5 separate regions of the Homo sapiens genome follow, and regions 1, 2, 3 and 5 are each linked to region 4. The links come from fine-mapping of genetic effects on gene expression. A gene starts in region 4. Each other region holds a variant in brackets. All regions are shown on one strand. Distances are between the middles of the regions.

Region 1 (5,106 bases), 52 kb after region 4:
ATCATGCACCCCTTACCATCTCATTAAAACCTAATCACCCTTACCCCACTCAACACCGATATCCCATCCCGCAGCACGCTTTAAAAAGATTAAAGACTGTTATCACTCGCCTGCTACAGCATGGCCTTTTAAAGCCTATAAACTCTCCTTACAATTCCCCCATTTTACCTGTCCTAAAACCAGACAAGCCTTACAAGTTAGTTCAGGATCTGCGCCTTATCAACCAAATTGTTTTGCCTATCCACCCCGTGGTGCCAAACCCATATACTCTCCTATCCTCAATACCTGCCTCTACAACCCATTATTCTGTTCTGGATCTCAAACATGCTTTCTTTACTATTCCTTTGCACCCTTAATCCCAGCCTCTCTTCGCTTTCACTTGGACTGACCCTGACACCCATCAAGCTCAGCAAATTACCTAGGCTGTACTGCCGCAAAGCTTCACAGACAGCCCCCATTACTTCAATCAAGCCCAAATTTCTTCCTCATCTGTTACCTATCTCGGCATAATTCTCATAAAAACACACGTGCTCTCTCTGCCAATCGTGTCCCACTGATCTCTCAAACCCCAGCACCTTCTACAAAACAACTCCTTTCCTTCCTAGGCATGGTTAGTGTGGTCAGAATTCTTACACAAGAGCCAGGACCACACCCTGTAGCCTTTCTGTCCAAACAACTTGACCTTACTGTTTTAGCCTAGCCCTCATGTCTGCGTGTAGCGGCTGCCACTGCATTAATACTTTCAGAGGCCCTCAAAATCACAATCTATGCTCAACTCACTCTCTACAGTTCTCATAACTTCCAAAATCTATTTTCTTCCTCATACCTGACGCATATACTTTCTGCTCCCCGGCTCCTTCAGCTGTACTCACAATTACCATTGTTCCTGGCCCGGACTTCAATCTGGCCTCCCACATTATTCCTGATACCACACCTGACCCCCATGACTGTATCTCTCTGATCCACCTGATATTCACCCCATTTCCCCATATTTCCTTCTTTCCTGTTCCTCACCCTGATCACGCTTGATTTATTGATGGTCCACCAGGCCTAATCGCCACACACCAGCAAAGGCAGGTTATACTATAGTACAAGCCACTAGCCCGCCTCTTAGAACCTCTCATTTCCTTTCCATCGTGGAAATCTATCCTCAAGGAAATAACTTCTCAGTGTTCCATCTGCTATTCTACTACTCCTCAGGGATTATTCAGGTCCCCTCCCTTCCCTACCCATCAAGCTCGAGGATTTGCCCCATCCAGGACTGGCAAATTAGCTTTACTCAACATGCCCTGAGTCAGATAACTAAAATACCTCTTAGTCTAGGTAGATACTTTCACTGGATAGGTAGAGGCCTTTCCTACAGGGTCTGAGAAGGCCACCACAGTCATTTCTTCTGTTCTGTCGGACATAATTCCTCAGTTTAGCCTTCCCACCTCAATACAGTCTGAAAACAGATGAGCCTTTATTAGTCAAATCAGCTAAGCAGTTTTTCAGGCTCTTAGTATTCAGTGAAACCTTTATATCCCTTACGGTCCTCCATCTTCAAGAAAAGTAGAATGGACTAAAGGTCTTTTAAAAACACACCTCACCAAGCTCAGCCACCAAAAAGGACCGGACAATACTGTTACCACTTTCCCTTCTCAGAATTCAGGCCTGTCCTCGGAATGCTACAGGGTACAGCCCATTTGAGCTCCTGTGTAGACGCTCGTTTTTATTAGGCCCCAGTCTCATTCCAGACACCAGACCAACTTAGACTGTGCCCCCGAAAACTTGTCATCCCTACTATCTTCTGTCTAGTCATACTCCTATTCACCGTTCTCAACTACTCATACATGCCCTGCTCTTGTTTACACTGCCGGTTTACACTGTTTTTCCAAGCCATCACAGCTGATATCTCCTGGTGCTATCCCCAAACTGCCACTCTTAACTCTTGAAGTAAATAAATAATCTTTGCTGGCAGGACTATGCTGAATCTCCTTAGGCACTCTCTAATCAGATATCCTGAGTCGTCCCAATTCTTAGACCTTTTATACCTGTTTTTCTCCTTCTGTTATTCCATTTAGTTTCTCAATTCATCCAAAACCATATCCAGGCCATCACCAATCATTCTATATGACAAATGTTTCTTCTAACATCCCCACAAAATCACCCCTTACCATAAGACCTCCCTTCAGCTTAATCTCTCCCACTCTAGGTTCCCACACTGCCCCTAACCCCGCTTGAAGCAGCCCTGAGAAACATCGCCCATTCTCTCTCCATATCACCCCCCAAAAATTTTCGCCACCCCAACACTTCAACACTATTTTGTTTTATTTTTCTTATTAATATAAGAAGGCAGGAATGTCAGGCCTCTGAGCCCAAGCCAAGCCATCACGTCCCCTGTGACTTGCACGTATACGCCCAGATGGCCTGAAGTAACTGAAGAATCACAAAAGAAGTGAATATGCCCTG[T/C]CCCGCCTTAACTGATGACATTCCACCACAAAAGTGTAAATGGCCGGTCCTTGCCTTACGTGATGACATTACCTTGTGAAAGTCCTTTTCCTGGCTCATCCTGGCTCAAAAAACACCCCCACTGAGCACCTTGCGACCCCCACTCCTGCCTGCCAGAGAACAAACCCCCTTTGACTATAATTTTCCTTTACCTGCCCAAATCCTATAAAACGGCCCCACCCTTATCTCCCTTCGCTGACTCTTTTTGGACTCAGCCCGCCTGCACCCAGGTGAAATAAACAGCCATGTTGCTCACACAAAGCCTGTTTGGTGGTCTCTTCACACGGACGCTCATGAAACCCATCTCTACTAAAAATACAAAAAATTAGTGGGGCGTGGTGGCGCTCGCCTGTAATCCCAGCTACTCAGGAGGCTGAGGCAGGAGAATTGCTTGAACCCGGGAGGTGGCGGTTGCAGTGAGCCAAGATAGTGCCACTGCACTCCAGCCTGGGCAACAGAGTAAGACTCCGTCTCAAGGAGAAAAACAAACAACTCTTGAGCAATGAGAGTTGATGCTCTTCTGGGTTGGTGAATACATTGAGGTGCTAGGAGGGTGGTGTGTCTGGAGAGGGCTTTCCCTGATCCCCATACCTCGCCCTATGCATCTCTTCCATTTGACTTCCTGAGTTGCAGCCTTTATAACAAACTGATCAACATAAATAAGGTATCCCTGAGTTCTGTGAGCCATTATTTCAAATTATCGAATCGGGTGGGGGGTGGCGGGGGGCGGTTACAGTAGCTCTTGATTTGTAGCAAGGACAGCCAGAAGTGCCGGAACCTGAGACTTGTAACTGATGTGAAGTGGGAGGAGCCTTGTGGGACTGAGTCCTTAACCTGTGGTGTCTATGCTAGTAATAGCTTTGGGCAGCAAGAAATAAAAATAAAATCCTAAACTGCCCAACGGACTAAACAGACCCTCTCTTGGTTAAAGAGACCCCATAGTAACCTTGAAAATTGAGTTCTGTGTCATGGTGGGATAGGAGGTTGGACACACCTTATTATGCCCTCTCCCTAGCTAAGCATGATAAGGCTTTCTTTCCTAAGGGCTTAACAGAAACCAGCCCTTTCAAAAGGCTCTCGTATCAACCAACCATGTGAGGCTGCCCCCCCATGATAAGAGGCCACTGACCACGGAGCGGTTCTGGCCAGTCTACAAAGAATGTGCAGTAGGGGTTTCTGTGCTCTCTGCTTCATCTTTTGGGGTCAGAGGGCTGAAAACTCTACCCTCAGATCATGCTATCACCACCGTTTTTGTACACGGGACACACGAAGGGGCATGAAGCTCATGTTTCTCCTTTCATAAATATTCACAACTCCTGCTACAGCTTATTGAATATGCATATTCGGCCAGCCCGCTCGGTATAAATTCATGTGCCCTTTGCCACTCCCTTGACGCATCTGTTTCTGGCTTCTGGCCAGCACCTACACTTCCCAGCCTGTCACTCTGCAGGCTGCAACGCTTTATGAGAAAGAAAACTCTCCTTTCCACATGTATAGGCCTTGTCATTCTCAGTTGACAGTAGTTATTGTCAGAATTGAATTGAATTTTAGGATATTCATTTAATGTTCACAGAGAATTGGTGGTTGGTCTTGGAAAACACCCCAGACTAACTCAATGTTCTTTCCATTACACTGCCTTCACAGCTGAATAAAAAGCCAAGAAACTTATAGTGTCACTAGAAACCACGGACAACTGCAAATCAATAAAAATTGATTTCAAAAGAATCAAGCTGCCAGGTTGGTGTGCCTCTAATTTCAGCACTTTGGGAAGTTGAGGCAGGAGGATTGTTGGAGCCCAGGAGTTCAACACCAGCCTGGGCAACATAGTGAGACCTCATCTCTATTAAAAAAGAAAAAAAAGTAATAATTGAAAATAAAAGAATCAAACTGTTGTTTATTTTTTTTTGAGACAGGGTCTTGCTCTGTCATCCAGGCTGGAGTGCAGTGGTGTGATCTCGGCTCACTGCAACCTCTGCCTCCCAGGTTCAAGCGATTCTTGTGCCTCAGCCTCCTGAGTAGCTGGGACTACAGGCACCCGCCGCCATGCCTGGCTAATTTTTGTATTTTTAGTACAGACGGGGTTTCGCCATGTTGGCCAGGCTGGTTTTGAACTCCTGACCTCAGGTGATTCACCCCCCTGGGCCTCCCAAAGTGCTGGGATTATAGGCGTGAGCCACCACGCCTGGCCAAGAATCAAGCCTTTTTAGGTCATCTCTGTACACCCATCAAGTACTCAGAGATACCCAATCAATGCTTGACCTAGTGAATGGGCAAATAAAATGAATGAATCCATTTTCAAATTATAGTTTAATCTGGGGAAAAGTAAGATTCATTTAAAAGCCCCTTTTCACTAACAACTTAAGGTGTAATTTTATTTCTGACCAATTGTCTTATTTTTAATGGAATCAAATCTATCATATAAAATACATAGCTCTAGCTTACCCCCAAGGTTGATGTACAGCAAATTCAGTAATTTTCTTAACCTAATGTGATCATTTGGTTTAAAAACACTGAAGGCTCCTTTAAATATCCAGAGTTCAAGTTTCAAGTCATCAAAACTCATGATTTGTCCTGATTCCAAGATAAAAGAAACAGGTGACCTGAGCTGCTGGTGCT
Region 2 (5,106 bases), 170 kb after region 4:
GGTGGAGTATTTCCAGGTAGTGATAACGTGCAAGGTGTGGTGCCTGTGTGTGGTTGGAGTGTAGTGGAGGAGTGTTACCAAGGTCATCCACCTTCTTGAAGCCACCCAGCAGAGGCAGGCCTGGGAGGAAGGCAGCAATTGTGGCAAGAAAGGAAAAGTCCTGGAGGTCAAGAAATGAGTGGCAAGGTTAGGGGTGAGAGGGAAGAGTGAAGCCCTGAGAAGTGAGGTGATGGACAGGATGTGGCCTGGGAGAAACGTTTATTTGGGAAAGTGATGACTATCCTCTCTTTGTCCTGGGAGTCAAGGAAATTTGGCAAACAACCACCCCTGGAGTGGGTTTATGAGGGGTGGGATTTTGAAGCAAAAGCCAGCTTTTCATTAGACAAGTAGGTAGAGAAAGTGTAAACAAAAAGTGATAATATAGGAGAATTACAACGGGTCAGGAGTTCAGAGGCTCATTGGAAGGAGTGAGTAGGCTTGGGGTATGTTTAAGGAGGGCTGGTTAGCAGGATGGAGACAGATGACTTTATATGAGTTCTGGGGGGGTCAGGACTTTTACTAGAGTTTACTAGGAAACCAAATCCACTGCAGAAACAGGCATAGATTTATGTAACTGTGGTAGGGGCCCATTAGAGATCTTGTGTTACTGATTTACTAATTGTGCTACTGATTTATTACTAATTCATTAGCTGTGACATACACTTTCAGCAAGTGACTAAAACCTTATGACCCAGAGTAAAATAATTTTATATCATGACCCAGGTAGCTGTGTGATATGTGTAATAAGTGGGCGTGTGTGTCTAACTAAAGATTCACCGAGCAACACTTAACTTCTACTATATGCAACAGCCTCTTATGTTTACTATTCTGTTCTGTTCTAATTCATTTTCTAAGAAAATGCTGGTCATGAACCACTGTGTTGATTTTATGATCCGTTAAAACATTACAGGTCAGGCATGGTGGCTATAATCCCAGGACTTTGGGAGGCCAAGATGGGTAGATTGCCTCAGCCCAGGAGTTTGAGACCAGCCTGGGCAACATGGTGAAACCCTGTCTCTGCACAAAATACAAAAAAAAAAATTAACCAGGCATGGTGGTGCACGCCTGTAGTTTCAGCTACTTGGGAGGCTGAGGTAGGAGGATCACCTGAGCCTGGGAGGTAGAGGCTGCAGTGCACAGTGATCACACCACTGCACTCCATCCTGTGTGAAAGAGTGATACCCTGTCTCAAATCAAAACAAAATAAAACATTACAGCCGCATTTGAATAAAGTGCTTTACACTATCTTGAGCATGTTTTGGTAATAGTTATGTTCTGCATAACAATATCCCATAAGATTATAATGGGGCTGAAAAATTCCCAATCAAAGCATTACTCACGTGTTTGTGGTGATGCTGGTATAAACCTACTGTGCTGCCAGTCATATGAAAGTATAGCGCATACAAATGTGTACAGTACATAATACTTCATAATGGTAATACTTATGTTACTGCTTTATGTATTTACTATGTTTTTATGTTATTTTTAGAGTGAACTTTCTCTACTTAAAATAAAAAGCAAATTGTAAAATGGCCCCAGGCAGGCCCTTTTGGAGGCACTGGAGGAGAAGGCATTGTTATCATAGGAGATAACAGCTCCATGCAGACCTTTCAGTGGGACAAGATGTGGAGGTGGAAGACAGTGATATTGATGATCCTGACTCATGTGGGATCTTGCTAATATGTGTGTTTGTGTCTTAGTTTATAGCAAAAAAGTTTAAAAAGTAAAAAAAAAAATTAAAAAGTTAAAAATAGAAAAAAGCTTATAGAATAAGGACATAAAGGGAAAAATATTTTTGTACAGCAGTAAAATGTATTTGTGTTAAGCTAATGAGTCAAAAAGTTAAAATTCAAAAGTTTATAAAGTAAAAAAGTTACAGTAAGCTAGGGTTAATTTATTATTGAAGAAAGAACCTTTCTTTTTCTTTTTTTGAGATGGAGTTTCGCTCTTGTCACCCAGGCTGGAGTGCAATGGTGTGGTGGCTCACGCCTGTAATCCCAGCACTTTGGGAGGCCAAGGCGGGTGGATCACCTGAGGCCAAGAGTTTGAGACCAGCCTGGCCAACATGGCAAAACCCCTATCTCTACTAAAAATACAAAAATTAGCCAGGCGTGGTGGTGCATACCTATAATCCCAGCTACTTGGGAGGCTGAGGAAGGAGAATCACTTGAACCCAGGAGGTGGAGGTTGCAGTGAGCCGAGATCGTGCCACTGCACTTCAGCCTAGGAGACAGTGAGACTCCGCCTCAAGAAAAAAAATAATTTAGCATACCCTAAGTGTACGATGTTTATAAAGTCTACAGTAGTGTACGGTAATGTCCTAGGGCTTCACATTCACTATCCTAAAGGACAGTGACACAAGTCCTGTCCTCAAGTGATCCGCCCACCTTGGCCTCCCAAAGTGTTGGGATTACAGGCGTGAGCCAGGCGTGGTTGTGCGCACATGTAATCCCAGCTACAGGCCGGGCCCCCTTTTTATGTTTAGATACACAAATACCACCATGCTACAACTGCCTACAGTACTGAGTATAGTCACATGCTGTATGGGTGTGTAGCCCAGGAGCAATAGGCCATATATCCTAGGTGTGTAGAAGGCTGTACCATCTAGGTTTGTTTAAGTGCACTCTGTGATGTTTGCGCAATGACGGAATCACCTAATGACATACTTCTCAGAACACATTTCCCTCATTAAGTGATACATGACCGCACTAGGTGCTGCTTCCTAGGCATCTCTGGGAGGAAGAACATTAATTTTAATTTTCTGTACCTAGTTCATACTTGGGGTTTATTGTACCATCTGGGAGAAACCAGGAGGTGTTTAGTTAGGCCTTTCCCTGCTCACAACTTTCATAGGCTCCGTTTTCCCTGCAGGATCATGGAAGGGCACCTCCTGAGCCTGGCCCAGGAGCCCATACTCACCCCTTTTACACCGCCTCCGCCTTCCCGCCATGGTTGATCGTTCTCTCCTCAGTTATGCCTCAGGTCCCTGTCCTGCTTCCACTGTGCATAGTATGCTTTATGGTAGCTTTCTCCATGTGTTGTCCTCTCTTAGCAGTCAGGGAGCTCCCTGAGGAAGACATTCTC[A/G]CTCGCTGTACCCCACTGCCTTGCACGGGGCCTGTGCAGAATGGGTGCTAGGTTGCTTTGCCTGAGTGAGTGTTGTGATCTCAGAAGTTCTGGCTTAGGCTTCTTGTCCCTGTGCTTTTGTCTAGAGAGGCTTTGTGAGGGACGCTGATTCTGTTGGATAGCCTTTGAATGATTTTCATTCTCAATTGCATGGATCGCTTTGGGGAACACAGACCAGCTGGCTGTGCTTGGCAGCAAGGTGTTGTGTGGTGGAAATGGCTGAATTCCACATATCCTCTGTTACTCACAGACATTTAGGGGAGCACGTGCCATCCCTCTCACAATTTTGAATACATAGGACCGGGTGCTCCTCACCCTTCCATTTCAGTGGGATAGTTTGTCTAGCAGCTGCTCTGTGCTGATGACATTATGAAATAGGGATTTTAAAGGACCTCTGTGCAAATGGAGCCCCTCAACCCCTGACGATGTGTTCTGCACAAATAGATTTAAGTAGGCTTTTTATGCATCAGAACTGCCTGCAATCTGAAACACACCAACAAGACAGGTTCAAGGATGAATTAACAAAGGTTCAGCAGACTTAAATGATATTCAGAAGTCTTGTGGCTAAGTCAAATTATAAATAAACTCATGTGTGTGGTGTAGAACTGTGTGTGTGTGTTGGTTTTGAGAGACTGATAGAAGGAAGAAGTAGATGGAGTATTATTTTCTTACTCCTGATGTGTCTCCCAGGCTGGATGATGACAAAGAACAAAGGAGAAGTTGTCAGGCTCAGTCAAGGAGAAGGGAGGAGCGATATGGTTTAAGTGTGGGAGGAAGAGAATTGAAGGGACATTTGTGCCACTTTACGCACCCACAGAGCTGTTTGTGTAGGTGGGGGCTGGGCAGGGAGTGTCACCAGAGACTTTGACTTCTCTGCCTCAGAACTTCACTCAGTGGGGTGTCTGTGTGCCTCAGATTAATGTCAGCCTGCTCAGGGAGAAGCAAATATGTGTCCTCTGAGGGATAAGGCACATATTTCACATACCCTCTGTTCTGGATGGAGCTGAGCTCAAGGGACTGGGTGGAGAGGAGGTCCTCTTCTCTCAAACATGGCCCTTCTTTCTCGCAGCCATACTTTTGCTAATCCCCTCTCTCTGGAATAGTTTTCTTATTCCTTTCTCCCTCAATTATCATTTTACTCCTTTTAAAGTCTACCTGGTCTTCATAGATGAACCCAGAGCTTATCTTTTCTCTGCAGATTTCTTGGTCACCCAAATAGTGGTAATTTTTCTTCTGAACGCCCCTAGCACTTACTGTCCATATCACTTCTGTGTCATGTATAACAGAATAGCAGATGGAGGAAGCTCAGTGTTTTTGTGTCTCATATACATAGGCAACTTCCATATTATTGTTCTGTATGTTATCTTGTCTCCCCAAATACAGCCCCAATGTGTCAATTCTTACCATGTCTGCTACAGTTCCTAGGGGATTTTGCAGGGGGAAAGAAGTGAGTTGTCATGTAAATGAAATAATGGTGTACCTTGACTGAGGATGTGAGAGAATTTTTTGTGCATCCCTGGGCACACAGCTGTCTTAGTCTCTTGTGCCCCTATAACAGAGTACCTGAGACTGAGTAACTTATAAAGAACAGAAATTTGTTTCTCGCAGTTCTGGAGACTGAATGTCCAAGATCAAAGTACTGGTGGGTTTGGTGTCCCATACCAGCTGGTTATCTGTTTCCAAGATGGCATCTTGTAGCTGCATCCTCCGTTGGTGGAAGTGATGGAAGGAAGGTCAATAAGGCCCTACCTAGTTCCCTCCAGCCCTTTTATAAGGTCACTAATCCCATTCATGAGAGCTCTGCCCTCATGACTTAATCATCTCCTAAAGGATCCACCTCTTAATGCTATCACAATGGTGATGAAGTTTCAACATATGAATTTGGGGGCACACATTCAGGCCATAGCAGCAGCCTTATATGGGAACTGACAATATTGTCTCTAC
Region 3 (5,106 bases), 13 kb before region 4:
TCTCTCAAGCTTGATTTTTGCAGATTAATGCTGGGGGAGAGGGACACATGGATTGCTGTATGATGAATTACTCATAATGTTATAGGGAGCCAGCCATTCTCCGGGAACTATTACCAGTCTGAAAACATCAGGGAGTTGCTCATTGCCTCTGGCATGCTAGTGCCTTTACAAACTCACATTTCTTTGTCTTTGCAGGTACTATGGATTATCCGTTTGGTTCCCTGATGTCATTAAACCTCTGCAGTCCGATGAATATGCATTGCTAACCAGAAATGTGGAGAGAGATAAATATGCAAATTTCACTATTAACTTTACAATGGAAAATCAGATTCATACTGGAATGGAATACGACAATGGCAGGTCTAGAAACTTGAAATAATTTAATTTGCTACCTATTCACAAAAACTTATTTCTTCTTAGCTTTCCCTGCACTGAAACAGGCATAGTTTTTTGTTTGTTTGTTTTAGTTTGTACATTTAGTCATTTTCATGATGAATTTCAATACTTCTTAATAGGCTTTAAATAAAAGGTACAAATGTATCCATTACTTCACTTAAAACTATTTTTGCAGCTAAGTTGCTTCATATTTATTAGGTAGTGGACTTGACTGGTGTGGAAGGAAAATTTAGAGCAATGTTGGAGAGCAACAAAAATAATGGAAGGAAGAGAAGAGTGAAGAGTATGGGAAAATAAGACAGGCTATAGGATTATTTAATTCACAGAAGAAATCTGAAATGTGATTATATGAGTCTTCTATTCCTGAGAAACAGAGCCACTTTTCAGAATTCATCCTTCCCAATACGCTGAATCCAGAATTGAGGTTAAATTGCATCAGGAAGAGTTTCAATTAGAGAACAGGAATCATTCCCCAAAGTAAAGGGCTTTGAAAGACGGAAGGGTCTCCTTTATGGGATCTGAAATACTTCTTGATGACAAGAGAGAACTGACTCAGGGAGGTGGTCCTGGGTCATTCTTTTAGAGATGGAAAAGAGTAGACCAAGTACTTGTTTATATCCAAGTATTTTTGTTGCCTGAACAAATAATTGCCAGTGTAAGTTCATGATAGTTTACATCATTCTTAGGAAGTTGTCCCAATTTCAAAAGTGATAAAATAAAACTCTAAAATAATCAAAGTTCCCCAGGGCAAAAACCAGTTCAGAAAGATGAAAAAGAATTCAGTGGGATGCTTATGATCTATGTAATGGAAAAGAGGGTTACTAACTAGGAGGTAATTGTTCAAATTAGCAATTCAATGAAGGAACTAATCATCATCCAAGCCAAGTGGGATCACCTTCACTCTCCCACATAAAATACTGACTTGAATCTGCACTTAGCATTTCACAGAAAGCTTAGTGTCAAGTCCTCTGTGATGCCAGGGTGAAAACTGACTTTCAAAAGTATTGTTACTCCATTAGAAATTTCTAATATATGTTTGTGTCTCTGACAGTCATATTTTTAGTAATATATGTTAAAGTTCTAAACTGGATACTCAGTCACTGCTTAGAACTTTTTTACATTAGCAATATAATGATTACTAATTTTAATAGTATTACAGTTTTTGTAAAACATATGTTACACATTTATTTTAAAAGATGATAGAAACAATTTTTTTGTCCTTCAGGAAAATTTGAAATACCATTAACGAAATTTTTTAAAAAATAGCTTTTTTATTCAGCATCATAAAATGGCAACTCTTTATATACTGATACGGAATAACCTCCAAGGTAGACTAGAAGGAGATAAAGCAGGTGTACTTTAGACACAGAATGCTCCTGGAGGAGCACACAAGAAACTGACAACAATGGTTATTCTGGGCAGAGGAACTTGTGGCCTGGGGATGGATGGGAAAAGACTGACTTTTTCCATTTTCAACCTTTCGAATTGTGCACCATGTGTACTCTCTGAATTATCCATTCAAAAAATAAAACTGATTCATTCCCTTTTCCAAATTCAGTTCCATGACAGAAAAAATTGATAACTTTTTAAAGATGTGCCATTATTTAGTCTCTTTTGGTGCATTTAGATGTTTTTACTCTGGGTCCCTGGAGTGGGGATTGAAACGAGATCATTATTATTATTTCCAGGTAATGTACCATGGGAATGATTTCTTTTTTAAGCTGATTGGTCTGTGAGGCCATGTGCATTTTGAACCAACACACGTAATTGGGTATTAGGGAGAGAATAAATTTGAAAGTACTCAATAGTTAGTAAACTGCTTTTAAATCAACCTACTTACCTAGAAGGATCAGTCCCTTTCTGCCCCTAATAAGAGTGGTATTGACATAACAACTCCTTCCCGAGGAGAACAAGCATTTTCCTCTCAGTGACTGGCTAAGTGTACATTCATAGTCTCTTAATAAAGTACCAGGACACGTTAATGAATATTTATCTGTGTCTGCTGGGAGTCCTTATCAATGCTGATAAGGCCTGGATCATGGACTCTTCTAAGATGTTATTATCATTATGACTGTTACCATTTTTACCACGTAGAATTCCCCCTTATAATACCCAAAAATATACCTGAACAGGTTTCATCATTCTTCATGTTTCCAAAAATAAGCAGAGTTCTCATAATTCCTTTTGGTTCAAGGACTATCTGTTGGCTGTGAGAAGAAAAATTATCCTGGAAATGAGCGTCACCTATGAGTTTCTTCAACCCCAAGTCAGTTATTCCTCACATAAATGAAACAGAATTCTCATGCTCTCTCTTCAGGATAATTACAGGTCCCTACACTAGAATGAAGAAGACTTGGATTTTCAGCTAGGGAAAAATAAAGTTATTAAAAGATCGGGTAGGAGGACATCCTTAAGTTAGAGCCATTAACCCCAAATAGAGAATATTCAAATAAAGATATACATGAAGAGACGATAGGATTAAAACCTAAAGAATAGCCCCAGGTAATCCCCAAACTATCTTCAGTTGCATACCCCACAAAACTTTTTACCAACATTACAAAAAGCTAAGGGAAGTTAGGAGTGTCATCTCTTTTCCTGGTGAAAAATAATATTGGTAAGCAATAAGATAGCCAAAGGTCAGCCTGGATGAGAA[A/T]AAGGGGAAAAAGCAGAGAGCTAAGAAAATCAAGAACTCTGTGTTCTTTATAATTAAGACAGTCCATAGTGGGGCATTCCATCTCTAAAACTATTTGACTTAGCTTTGAACTTTGATGGACACAGTCATTGATTGATATGAATTTTTCTGTGTGTTGGGCAGATTCATAGGGGTCAAGTTCAAATCTGTAACTTTCAAAGACTCTGTTTTTAAGTCCTGCACCTTTGAGGATGTAACTTCAGTGAACACCTACTTCAAGAACTGCACATTTATTGACACTGTTTTTGACAACACAGGTAGGTGTGCTACTTAGTACTGCCTCTACCTGAGGCCTCTCCAAAGGGCCCACTGTGATAACCATGTGATAATGTGGGCAGAGGCTTATGCGGGAAGTGGATATTAAAGAATAAATGGAACAAGTTCTCTAAATCAGGTTGGATCAAAGGTTGGCTTGTATTGTTTGTCTTTGTCAGATTTAGTGCAAATGGAGCTTGCCAAAGTTCAAAAGTTGGCAACAACAACAACAAAAAAATCCTTTGATGAATAAATTTTTAAAGCAAAGACCTAACCTGTAGTTTATTTGTTTTGATAATCCTGGGTTCAAAATCTGGTGTTTGTTTAAATGCCTCAACTCTATAGCCAACAGAGATAGACAACATGTGGCTATGCTCAGATACATATATATTTTGGCCAAATCCATATAATGGGGTATTTTAAACTCCCCAGGGGGAAAAAAAAGGAAGGCAAACAAGCATTGATTGAACACCTATATACTGTTTTCTACTCTAGGTCATTAGACATTCATTATCTCATTTAGTTTTCACAGTAGCTGAGGCTTAGGAAAGTTAAGTAATTTGTCCACAATTATAGAACTAGTAATAACAGATGTTTGAACCCAGATTTATTTGATTTCAAAGCCTGTGCCTTCCACTTTCCCACTCCCAAACATTGGTCTGTGTGTCCTATAAAATGAATCCAGCATAACAGCGTGGCATTGGCAGGAGCATCAGCATTTGCCCTGTTGCCAGACCTGCCTTCTTAGTGCTCAGACAAGGGCTCTGCCTAGCTCCAAAGAAGAATGAGGTCAGGTGTCTTTCTGTTTTTTGTTTTTTGAGCAATGCTATCTACCTGTCTTCTAACCCATTAAACCTCAGAAGACGAACATTTTGTCAGATCTTGATCAGCAAGGAAGATAGTTTCAATTCTCACAGCCTTTTAGCAGAAACCACCACCATCTGCAACTCTTCTTGGATGGTTTCAAATTCAAGAAAAGATTAGCAATGAATGCTGGTGACCTTCAGATGAGGCTGACTCTTGTTCCTCAGTAGATTCATGCACATAGACTTTAAATTATAAATTCAGCCTCAGGAAAGACTTGTTCCTTCTCTGTGCCCTCTAGTCTCATAAAATGGCAATGATAAGGCTGACTCTTGCACTTTTTTTTCCTTAGAGACAGGGTCTTGCTCTGTCATCCAGGCTGGAGTACAGTGGCGCAATCACAGCTCACTGCGGCCTCAAATAAAAAATTATTATTATTATTATTATTATTATTATTATTATTTTTGTAGAGATGGTGTCTCACTATGTTGTCCAAGCTAGTCTTGAACTCCTGGCTCAAGCAATCCTCCTGCCTCATCCTCCCAAAGCACTGGGATTACAGGCATGAGGCACCACACCCAGCCCATGCACATTTTGAAACAAATTGTTTTTATAATTGTAGTATGGACACTATTAGTACTATAATGATAGTCTTTATGTAACATGATAATTAGGACATAGTAATATTGTAAAGGAGTAAGCAAGTAATATAATTAGCAATGGCCGACCATAGGAAATCAGAAGATAACTGGACCCCTTAATTTAATGTATTCCTTTATTCAGCAAAGGTATCTCATCATTCACCTACTTTATGATGTGAAGACCCAGACTAGATCCTATGCTTTGGCCAGAAGACCCAAAAAGTCAAGCTAGCATAGGCCTGAAAGCCCTCAAGGAATTTACAATACTGGTTTCCTCTCCGAATCCTCCATAGGCTTTCTTATACTGGTGCATGCCTG
Region 4 (5,106 bases):
GGCTTTGGTTGTGGCTTTTCTTTTTCTGTGCCTATTGGCATTTCTGGGTTGGCAACTTGTTCGATTCCAAGTCTGAGATCTATGGAGCAGAAGGCAAACGCAGGGAACTCCCCATCCCCAAGCTCCCTAGCAGTTCTGCCTTTTTCCTCTTTCAGTCTTGTTCTGTTTGTTTTATATATAATGTGCAGGATATTTTGTTGTACTTATCAAGAAGAATAAGAAAAGTATATCTATTCCATCTCGGTGTGAATTTTAATACTGTTTGTTTATTTACTCAACAACTATTTTTTTGAGCACCTATGATACAACCGTGAGTAAATCAGTTGTGGTCTTTATTCTCATAAGCACAAGCAAACTTCAGTTGTAATATAGTGGTCAGGGTTATTACATGGGAAGTGCATGATGCTCAGAGCATCAGAGAGGTTTTCTTGAAAGAAGTTCCATTTAATTGAGATCTAGTAGGTGATAACCAGTCAAAAAGATGGAAAGAACATTTCAGTTAGAGCAAATACCAGCTAACAAGCTCTGGAAGTAAAAGAGTTACTCAAAGAACAAGTCATGAAGACTCTTTCACATTGCCTTATTGTGTGGGGACGGGGAGACTTTGAGCTGTCTTACAGAGAATGACAAGATCATTCTTGGCCTTTAGAGAGCTCCCTCTAATGGCCAGAAAGAAGGCAGGGAGGCTGGTTAAGACACTTAAGTTGTAGGTTGGAGGCCGGGCACGGTGGCTCACGTCTGTAATCCCAGCACTTTGGGAGGCCAAGGCAGGCGGATTACGAGGTCAGGAGATCGAGACCATCCTGGCTAACAAGGTGAAACCCCGTCTCTACTAAAAATACAAAAAATTAGCCAGGCATCGTGGCTGGCGCCTGTAGTCCCAGCCACTCGGGAGGCTGAGGCAGGAGAATGGCGTGAACCCGGGAGGCGGAGCTTGCAGTGAGCCGAGATCGCACCACTGTGCTCCAGCCTGGGCGACAGAGCGAAACTCCATCTCAAAAAAAAAAAAAAAAAAAAAAAAAACAGAAAGAAAGAAAGAAAAATGTAGGTTGGAAAGGGGAAAAGTCAACACTCAACATGTTCACAGATATTTAGGGATACATTCAACAAAGCTTGGTGCTTGATTAGATGTTAGGGGGAAGAAAAGAGGTTGTCAAAGAAAGATGATTCCAGTTTCTGCGTGTACAGTTGAGTGAATGGAGATGGCAGGTTTTGTTTATGTTTTTTAATTTTAAAAACCACCTGCAGGAGCACAATGGCATTTTGAGGCTGGGACACAGGAGGGACAGTGGGTCTGGGCTGTGGTCAAGAAGGTAATAAGTTCCATTTTGGACATGTTGAGTTTTTACATCAACCTGGGGCTGTCCGATTGGCATTTGAATATTTTTGTTTGGATGCCAGAAAGATACCTGAGCTGGGGATAGAGAGGTCATTCACTATTTCATTCAAAAAAAAAAAATGATTATGGAATGCATATCCTGTGCCAGGAACTATTTTAGTCATTGGGAGACAGCAGTGAACAAAACAGACAGAAAGCTTTGCCTTGATAGAGCTTATATTCTATAATAGTTTGAGGAAGACAGTCCAACAAACAGATAAGTAAAGTAGATGTAGTATATTGGATGGTGCTAAGTGCTGTAGAGAAAAATAAAGCTACGTGGAGCATAGAGAATGCTGGGGTAAGGAGAGTTACAACTGTAAATAGAATGGTCTAGGGGGATGTGACTGTAAAGCTGACATTTGAGCAAAGACCCAGGCAGACATCTGGAGAGAGTGTATTCACAGCAGAGGCAACAGCAGGTGCAAAGGTCCTGAGGTGGGAGTGTGAGAGACCAGTTGGAAGAGAGGCAAAGCTTGTCTGGCTGGAGCAGAATGACCAAGGTAGAGGGTAAGAAGCCATGGGGTCAGAGTGGACAATAAAAGGGCTTTGGTCTTCTTGCTGAGTAAAATGAAATCCAATGTGGGGTTTGGGGGCAGATGAGTGACATGAACTGACTTATGAAGTCCACAGCAAGAAATGTGGCAAGAGGTAATGGTGCCAATGGAGGTGGTGAGAAAGTGGTTAGATTCTGAAAATATGTCTAAGAGAGAGACCTGGAATAGTTCAAGTCAAAGGAAACAGAAAACAAAGGCCTCCATAGAAATAACATGTCTGAGAGGCAAGAGTTGGAGTCTGGGGGTAAATCCATCAACGTAAGAAAATCCAGAGGTAACACAGATCTGGACTAAGAAATAACAGACACCAGAGTTAGGATACCAGGCCAGGAGACAAGAGTTCAGTGAGCTAGAAACTCAGGCTGGCAGAGTGGAATACAAAAAAACTAGCCTGGAAGCAAGTGGTCAAAGTATTAAGATGTCTTGATCTTCAAAAATGGTGTATGACATTGAGAGAAGGCTTTGCAAGTTAGACTTCCCTATAACCTCTGTGCTTAGGTCAGTAGGGCAGTAGTAGTTTGCAGCTGGTTCTCAATGACATTCATTGGACTGACTTGCCCAGGGCTAGAACTCACCTCAGGTAGAGGCAAGATATCAGAACTGTCTGCAGTGGAAGTTGAAGGCACCTCTCTGCTCATGCACTCACCTTGGTCAGTCACCTCTATCTTGATCCTAAACCTTCTTCCCAACTCTGTAGTAATAGCCTGAGATTCTTGCCAAGGCCAGCTTCCCAGTGCTGTGGTACGTCTGCCACAATGATTGAGATGCAGTGGTCGATGCAGTGCCCTTCTCCCCAAGGCTCTTAATTCTTAGGCGTAGACTTGAAGAAGCCAGGAATACTTGTACTTCTGCAGGGATGAGTGAGGTGAAGCGGGAAGACGGAAAAGCAAATGTTGCATTCAGGAATTTGTCCTTGATTGTGAGGCTGGAAAGACAAGATTGCTTTGAGAAGCATTATGAGGAAAGAAATGAAGAGCAGGGCAAAATGATAGACCTTTGAAGTTTGAGCCATTATTGAATATACAAGTCATTGTATAGTCTTTTAACAGTTTCTACATCAGCCCCTCACCTGTGTCAAAGATAAGCAGAGAGCCTATTATATGTAATGTAGATCACAAACAATTGATGTGGCATGAGATTCTTCTAATAGACATGAAATATGAATGTGACATGAGCCAGACATAGAATGGATTTTCCAGCTTGCCGTAAATCTGAAAGGAGCCCCAACCATCTAACATACTGGTGTGGGGGAGCTTCCTTTTCCCTCATTTCTCCGTCCCCAGTCCCTGCCACCAGCAAAATTACTTTCAACCCTCTTTGCGGTAGAACTGAGAACACCAACAGAAGATGCATTTCATTTTTTGGGTTTAGTCTGTGCTGGTCAGCTTCCCTCAATACCCTAACTGGGAAAAATAAGTCAATTTTCCCTCATCTCTTGAAGTCTTCAAAATGAAAGTATATGTAATGACAGGTTGAAATGGATTTTTTCCATCCATCAGGGTCCCTACTTTTCTCTCCCTGCTTTGTGAAAGTTGTAAATCTCTCAAAAGTCATAAATGTAGCTCCCGCGGTGTAGGCCTGTTCCAGCTCATTCCAGTTCTAGGTTTTGGCCTTTATGTTTCTCTGCGTCCAGGTGTTAACTTTCTGCTGCCACTATGTGGCTGTGGCCAAGTCCCCTGCTCACATTTCCTGTGTGCTTATGGCTCAGGGGCCACTTTTTTTTTTTGGGGGGGGGGACAGGGTCTCACTCTGTCACCCAGGCTGGAGTGCAGTGACGCAATCTCCACTCACTGCAATCTCTGCTTCCCAGATTCAAGCAATTCTCCTGCCTCGGCCTCCTGAGTAACTGGGATTATAGGTGCCTTCCACCACTCCCAGCTAATTTTTGTATTTTTAATAGAGACGGGGTTTCACCGTGTTGGCCAGGCTGGTCTCGAACTCCTGACCTCAAGTGATCTGCCTGCCTCGGCCTCCCAACGTGCTGGGATTACAGACATGAGCCAGCGTGCCCAGCCATTAGGGGCCATCTTTACCCCTCCTCCGTGGCGCTCGGGGCCAGGAGCGCACACCTTGTGAGATGCAGCCCACGCTCTCAGGGCCGTCCTGCAACTCTGCACAGACTCCCAGGGCCAGGCAAGCCTGTCTCATGGTGTCGTTTGGCCGCATGTTCCTGCCTTTCTCTGCCTACCTTCTTCCCTTTTCTTTCCCCCTTATGCCCCCTTATGCATGCACAGTTTCAGACATGAGGTCAGAAAGGATTTGAGGATCTGATTGTTCACACCTGCCGATCCCTGAGAGTCCTGGGCAGCTGCTGCCATCACCCAGTGCAGTGGGATTGGTCTCTTCCTTGATGAGCTAAAATCAAAACATTTTCCCAGAATTAAGCAACCCAAGCCCTTCCCTTAGGACTGTCCTTGTTTTGACAGAGTTCTCTTGTTTCCTCCCCATTCTTCAGTTCCGAAGGTCTGTCATCTTGGATCTCTTACTGACCAGCTGTGCGACCTCAGGGACACCACTCAGCCTAGCTGGGCCTGGATTGTTTGAGATTTAAATGAGGAGTATGAAATAAATAGCATCTCAGGGCCTTTCTAGCTCTAGAATTCTCTTCACTGTCGTCATCTGGTATTCTGTAATGGCAATTTCATTCATTCTTTCTTGAATACATTCTACGTCTAATATAAAGATAAATATCTCACTTATTTGTGAAGATTTTGGTACAGAGGAATCTTTCAGCTATCGCGACTAACCAACCTATGTAATCCACTCCATCCCTGGCCCTCTGCTCTGCTTGATTTTTCCTTATACGCCTTATCATTATATTATATATGTTTATGCTTTGGCTATCCAGCAAAAGTCAGATTCATTTTGTCTCTGGTAGTTAGAAGTAGAGGGTGAAGGGGGTGGGGAATATATGCTTCCTGCTCCCACAACCTTGCCATCAGGCAATATATTACAATGGAAGCAAATCCTGCCAAGTGTACTAGCACAAAAACAGTCACAAAGTTTGTTTTTGAGCTCCAAGGAAGTCCATCTCGCTGTCCTTGGGTACTGAGCAAGCCCTTGCATGAAAGGGCCATGTGCTTGATATGCTGACAGCAGGGCCACCAGACTTGTGGGCCAGCTAAACAAGGGAATGCCCCTTTAATTGTGGGGTGCAGGATAAGGGGGCTC
Region 5 (5,106 bases), 110 kb before region 4:
CCCTTCATTCCTATTACTTATTAACTCAGTACAGAAGCAGCTGAAGTTTTATATATTCTTTTTTTTATTTAAACTTTCTTTATTAAAACTTAAGCCAGAGAATTAAGATTCTCATCCTAGAGACCTTAAATAAAAGACCATGTTTTATCTACTTAAACAACTCCCTCCAACCATATCTGGTCCAGTTTTTAAATTGAGAAAAACTACGTGAAATAACATTCCAAAATGTTGGGAATGTTTCTTTTGTGGGCCTCTGGTGCACATAGGCCCCCGCACTCCACGCATTTCCTAGGAGTACAGTACTTGCCATCCTTTCTGCTTTGAAGCTTCTTCTCCCAGGGCCCTCCCACTCACAGCTTCCCAGAGGCGTTTCCTGAGACCACACACCCAGTGGGTCTCAGAGAGTTTCCTGTTTTGTCTCCTTGGCAGCACTTACAACTGATGCCTGAAAATATTTACTTCTTATGTTCTTCTTTCTCTCCTCCACCAGCATGTAAATTCCAAAGGGCTGGGACTGTCGTCTTGTTCAACATTGCTTAATCGCCCATGGCAGAGTGGGCATGGGTATTGTAAAAGACAGTGGAGTTCAAGCAGCAACCAGCATAGTCTGACTTGCAGCCATCTGTGTCATTGGCTAGTTAATCATGAAGTGAAATAGATAGGAAGCCTACTCAATTCTTACTTGATCTGTATAAGTAGAAAACTTATATGACTAGTGAATGAAAATCTAACTTGAGTCATGTCCCCTCCATCATTCCCAGACTGGAGCTGCTTTACAGACCCAGAACCAACTGAATGAAGGGGAGGCTGGGCCTCCTTGAAGAAGGATCTTTGTACCCAGCTAAATATTTATACTGTTAGTCTTTCTCCCAGCTTCCCCAAAGGGACTGAAGGCCTTTTACCAGGATGAGTGTGCATGGGAGAAAGGAAATAATCAGTCTTCTCAGGGCTTGTGGACACTGGCTCTAAACTGACACTAATTCCAGGAGACACAAAATGTCACTGTGGTCAACCAGTCAGAGCAGGGGCTTATGGAAGGCAGGTAATCAATGGTGTTTTAGCTCAGGTCTGTTTCACAGTGGGCCCAGTGAGTCAGGCACTGAATCCATCCCGTGCCTGATTCCACAGTTCTGGACTGCATAATTGGAACAGACCTACTCAGCAGCTGGCAGAATTCCCACATTGGTACAGAATCCCCACATTTAATTGGTACAGGGCCTGTCCATCAGCTCCATTTACTAGGAATTTTAGAACAAAGAGAAGTTCTAGTTCAGAGAGTCCAAACTTTTCATTTTGCAGATTGAGGTGCAGTGGTGGAACCAGGAATAACTCAGCTAGGACTTAAATTGCAATTAAAGTCATTTTAAACTTGCAACTCTGTAAATAAGTAAAATGTACATTCTGAATCCAAGGTTTACCTGTCTGTGTGTTGATTTTATCAAAAATGCTACAGATTTCCAGTTGCTGTGTCTTATTTCATTGCTGAAGCATCATTAGCAGCACTGTCTCTGCAAATAAAGGGGACTGGAAGGAGTTCTTTTTTATTTTATTTTTTGTTTTATTTTGTTTTTTGAGATGGGATCTCACTCTGTCACCCAGGCTGGAATGCAGTGGTGCGATCATGGCTCACTGCAGCCTTGACCTCCTGGGCTCAAGTGATCCTCCTACCTCAGCATCCTGAGTAGCTGGGACCACAGATGCATGCCACCACACCCAGCTAACTTTTAAAAATGTTTTGTACAAACAAGGTCTCCCTATGTTGCCAAGGCTGGTTTCAAACTCCTGGATTCAAGTAATCCTCCTAGCCTTGGCTTTCCAAAGTGCTGGGATTGCAGGCATGAGCTGCTGCACCTGGCCAAGCTCTTGTTTTAAACTGAGATCTACTTGGGTTTATATTTTTATTGTCTCCAAATGTGCTTTCCTCTTAATTCATCAAACCAAGTCATGAGCATATCTTCTTAGAAACACAAATATGTCCAGCTGACATATTGTATATGACTTTAAATGTTTATTCGGTACAATGAATGATTTTCCTGCCTGGGGACAACAGCGTTGTGTGGGAAGGAGGACTAGGACATCACCAATTACTCATCTGTCTATCACTTTCCTAAACGAATCTCACACCAAGAAACAGACACTTTCCTCCCCTCTTTTGTTATAGAAAATTAGAAAGATGGGAAATGGAGTTGGCACCATTGATTCATTTTCATTTGACCCAGAATTAAATTATTTGTAGCCAGTCACTGTTAATTATGGGAATGATAGTACTTTGGATGCTAGGCAATATCAGAGTCGGGAGCTTCTCACTGAGGGCCTGGCACTGCTAAGCAGGAAGGTCAGGAGAAAAATATAATAGCAACAGAAATTAAAATGAAATTTCAACGTGTCTGTATATCGTAAATGAAAGAATAGTAATTTCTTCCTCTGTGAATAGAGCCTACCAAATGTGTACTTCATAGCTATTTGCAATATTCATTCATTAGCTGTATTGAGTTATAGTAAGAATACCTTGGCTTTGTAGAAATCATCACCATTAACTGGAATTATTCAGAATGCTTTATATGTAGCATCCCATTTATTTCCACAATTGTTTTAAATAATTTGTCATGTAAAAATTGTGTGCCTTTTTTATTAGAAAATTGAGGCACAGAGGCCGGGTAC[G/A]GTGGCTCATGCCTGTAATCCCAGCACTTTGGGAGGCTGAGGTGGGCGGATCACGAGGTCAGGAGATCGAGACCATCCTGGCTAACATGGTGAAACCCCGTCTCTACTAAAAATACAAAAAATTAGCCAGGCGTGGTGGCAGGCGCCTGTAGTCCCAGCCACTCGGGAGGCTGAGGCAGGAGAATGGCGAACCTGGGAGGCGGAGCTTGCAGTGAGCTGAGCTCGCGCCACTGCACTCCAGCCTGGGCGACAGAGCGAGACTCCATCTCAAAAAAAAAAAAAAAAAAAAAGAAAGAAAAAGAAAATTGAGGCACGGATTGATTATTGCTTCCAAATATTCAACAGACACCCAGTCTTCTGAATTTTGGTCTGATTCTGAGCTATGAGGTTTTTCCCTTCAAAGTAGTCTTTTTCTTAAAATAATCATATTGGAAAAATGCAGTCATTTAAAATTGTTTAAGACTTTTAAAATGTATTTTATCAAACACCTCTATAGTGCTTGCCGCGTGAGAGATGCTGTGTTCAGCACTTTATATTAGTAAATATTGACTCTCATCAGTGACCCGATGAGAAAGATGCTATTCATTATTCATATATCTTAACTGTATGTCATAAATGAGGAAGTTGAAGTACAGAGAGGTTAAGTTCCTATCTGAGGTCACACAATAAGTAATGTAATCAGGTTTCATACCCAGGCAGTCTGGCTCCAGGGCCCATGCTCATAACCATCAGGCTGTGCTGTGCTTCAGACTCAACCAGAAATGTCTCTGATTTCATATGGCACAACGTATACATGATATGTGCTCATACGTGTTTGAACAGATCAGTCCAAAAATATCTCTGGCCCCAGAGCATCAGAAGGGAAAGACCTTCCCCAATATGTAAAATGAGGCAACAGTCAAGATTATCTTTAATCCAAAAATAATATAAAACCCAAATTGTAAACAGTGTGTCAGTGTTTTCTTAGAGCTGCGTTGTCCAACATGGTAACCACTAGCTTCATGTAGCTACCAAGCACTTGAAATGTGACTAGTCCAAGTTGAGATGTGTTGTAGGTATAAAATACATAGCAGTGGATTTCAAAGACCTAGAACATATAAAAGAATGCAAAATATCTCAATAATTTTACATTGATTACACGTTAAAATAATATTTTACATATATTGGGTTAAATGACTATATATTAAAATTAACTTTACGTGATTGTTTTGTTTTAATGTCTCTTCTGGAAAAATTTAAAATTACATACGTGGCTCACATTTTCTATTGGAAAGCACTGTCTTAGGCAATGCTTTTTACTTTCCAACAAAAAGGCTGACCTTTTGGACACATTTTGTTTCCCAGTATACCCTTTAGCAAAGGTACTATTGATCACAAAGGAGAAGGAACAGAACAAAAGATCTTCCAGACCCACAGTGTATAATTGTGAAAAATTAGCCATATGCACTCTTTAGAATTCACTCTCTGGAGCCCACAGCAGGAATTTGTGTGCTTCATGCCTGCACCTCCAACAACTGGTGATGTGCCTGGCCCAGAGTTTGATTGGGTGAGGGGGTGGATAGAGGGATAATGGGTGGATAATGGGTAAATGAAGGGTGGGTGGGAGGATGAGTGCAGGAATGGATGAGGAAATGTATACAGCAAGAGGCTAGATACATCTGCATGTTCTATCATTAATTATAGAACATCATAATGATCATCACCATCTTTATTCATGGCACCTTTAGATGCTATGGGAAGGCATTCTTCCAACTCTATCAATAGCTAATTTTTTTTCAAGACAGTATTAAAGTCTTGATCCATGACTACCCCACTTCCCTCAGTGGTACTAAGTCTGCTACTGTGGATGCATAGACCTCCACAGTTTTAGGGGGTTAGGCCACCAATCTGATAGCAAACCAGGGCTAAGGGAGTTGAATTGCAGCTGTTTTCTTGGCAATGCAGTTTTCCCCACAAATTATATACTTAAAGATCAATATTTTTTAAATAACCAAATTTTCTACTCATTATTCTATTCATAGTTTACATAATATTTAGAAAATGACAACTTCATATATCGAAGAATATTATTTTTCAAATTGTGGCTTTGGAAATTGAAGACTAAAGCTACCCAAATCATCCATCCTTTGGCATTGCCACTGGGCAAAGGAAATTCTTGTTCTTGATTTGATGATGAGTTAGGTTACCAGTATGTGTTTTTCTCCCATTTCTATCTTTATCACTGATAGCAAACATGTGCCTTCTGATCTATATAGCAACCTTATTTTCTGTGCCAACCTAGCCTATTCAGAAAGAGTGTTAGGTGTGTGCTCTTTCATCTAAGCCTCTGAGCAATCTCCCCAAGGTCTGTGATACTCTATTTACTTTCATAAAGTGGAAGAGACTGAAAGGTTCATCTTTGGACTGCTGCTCTAATCCCTTATTTCTGGGTCCAATTTATAACAT

Evidence for each region.
Region 1: its variant is fine-mapped to the expression of SV2C-AS2 in whole blood (INTERVAL, PIP 0.95).
Region 2: its variant is fine-mapped to the expression of SV2C-AS2 in whole blood (INTERVAL, PIP above 0.99).
Region 3: its variant is fine-mapped to the expression of SV2C-AS2 in whole blood (INTERVAL, PIP above 0.99).
Region 5: its variant is fine-mapped to the expression of SV2C-AS2 in whole blood (INTERVAL, PIP above 0.99).

What each region holds. Positions count from the first base shown.
Region 1 is chr5:76,360,285-76,365,390 of GRCh38, forward strand. No RefSeq gene overlaps it. Among named protein-coding and RNA genes, the nearest start is that of IQGAP2, 40 kb to the right of the region's middle. The variant T/C (reference allele first, on the strand shown) is at 2,452.
Region 2 is chr5:76,476,112-76,481,217 of GRCh38, forward strand. The region is part of intron 2 of IQGAP2 (IQ motif containing GTPase activating protein 2); the gene reads left to right. Among named protein-coding and RNA genes, the nearest start is that of IQGAP2, 75 kb to the left of the region's middle. The variant A/G (reference allele first, on the strand shown) is at 3,124.
Region 3 is chr5:76,295,583-76,300,688 of GRCh38, forward strand. It overlaps SV2C (synaptic vesicle glycoprotein 2C), which reads left to right. Exons shown (of 13, transcript NM_014979.4): 9 at 196-360; 10 at 3,212-3,345. It overlaps SV2C-AS2 (SV2C antisense RNA 2), which reads right to left. Exons shown (of 4, transcript XR_001742750.2): 2 at 2,521-2,603; 3 at 178-262. Among named protein-coding and RNA genes, the nearest start is that of SV2C-AS2, 13 kb to the right of the region's middle. RefSeq lists enhancers at 1-632, 612-1,494. The variant A/T (reference allele first, on the strand shown) is at 3,050.
Region 4 is chr5:76,308,603-76,313,708 of GRCh38, forward strand. It overlaps SV2C-AS2 (SV2C antisense RNA 2), which reads right to left and starts at 3,027. Exons shown (of 4, transcript XR_001742750.2): 1 at 2,582-3,027. The region is part of intron 12 of SV2C (synaptic vesicle glycoprotein 2C); the gene reads left to right.
Region 5 is chr5:76,199,086-76,204,191 of GRCh38, forward strand. The region is part of intron 3 of SV2C (synaptic vesicle glycoprotein 2C); the gene reads left to right. Among named protein-coding and RNA genes, the nearest start is that of SV2C-AS2, 110 kb to the right of the region's middle. The variant G/A (reference allele first, on the strand shown) is at 2,662.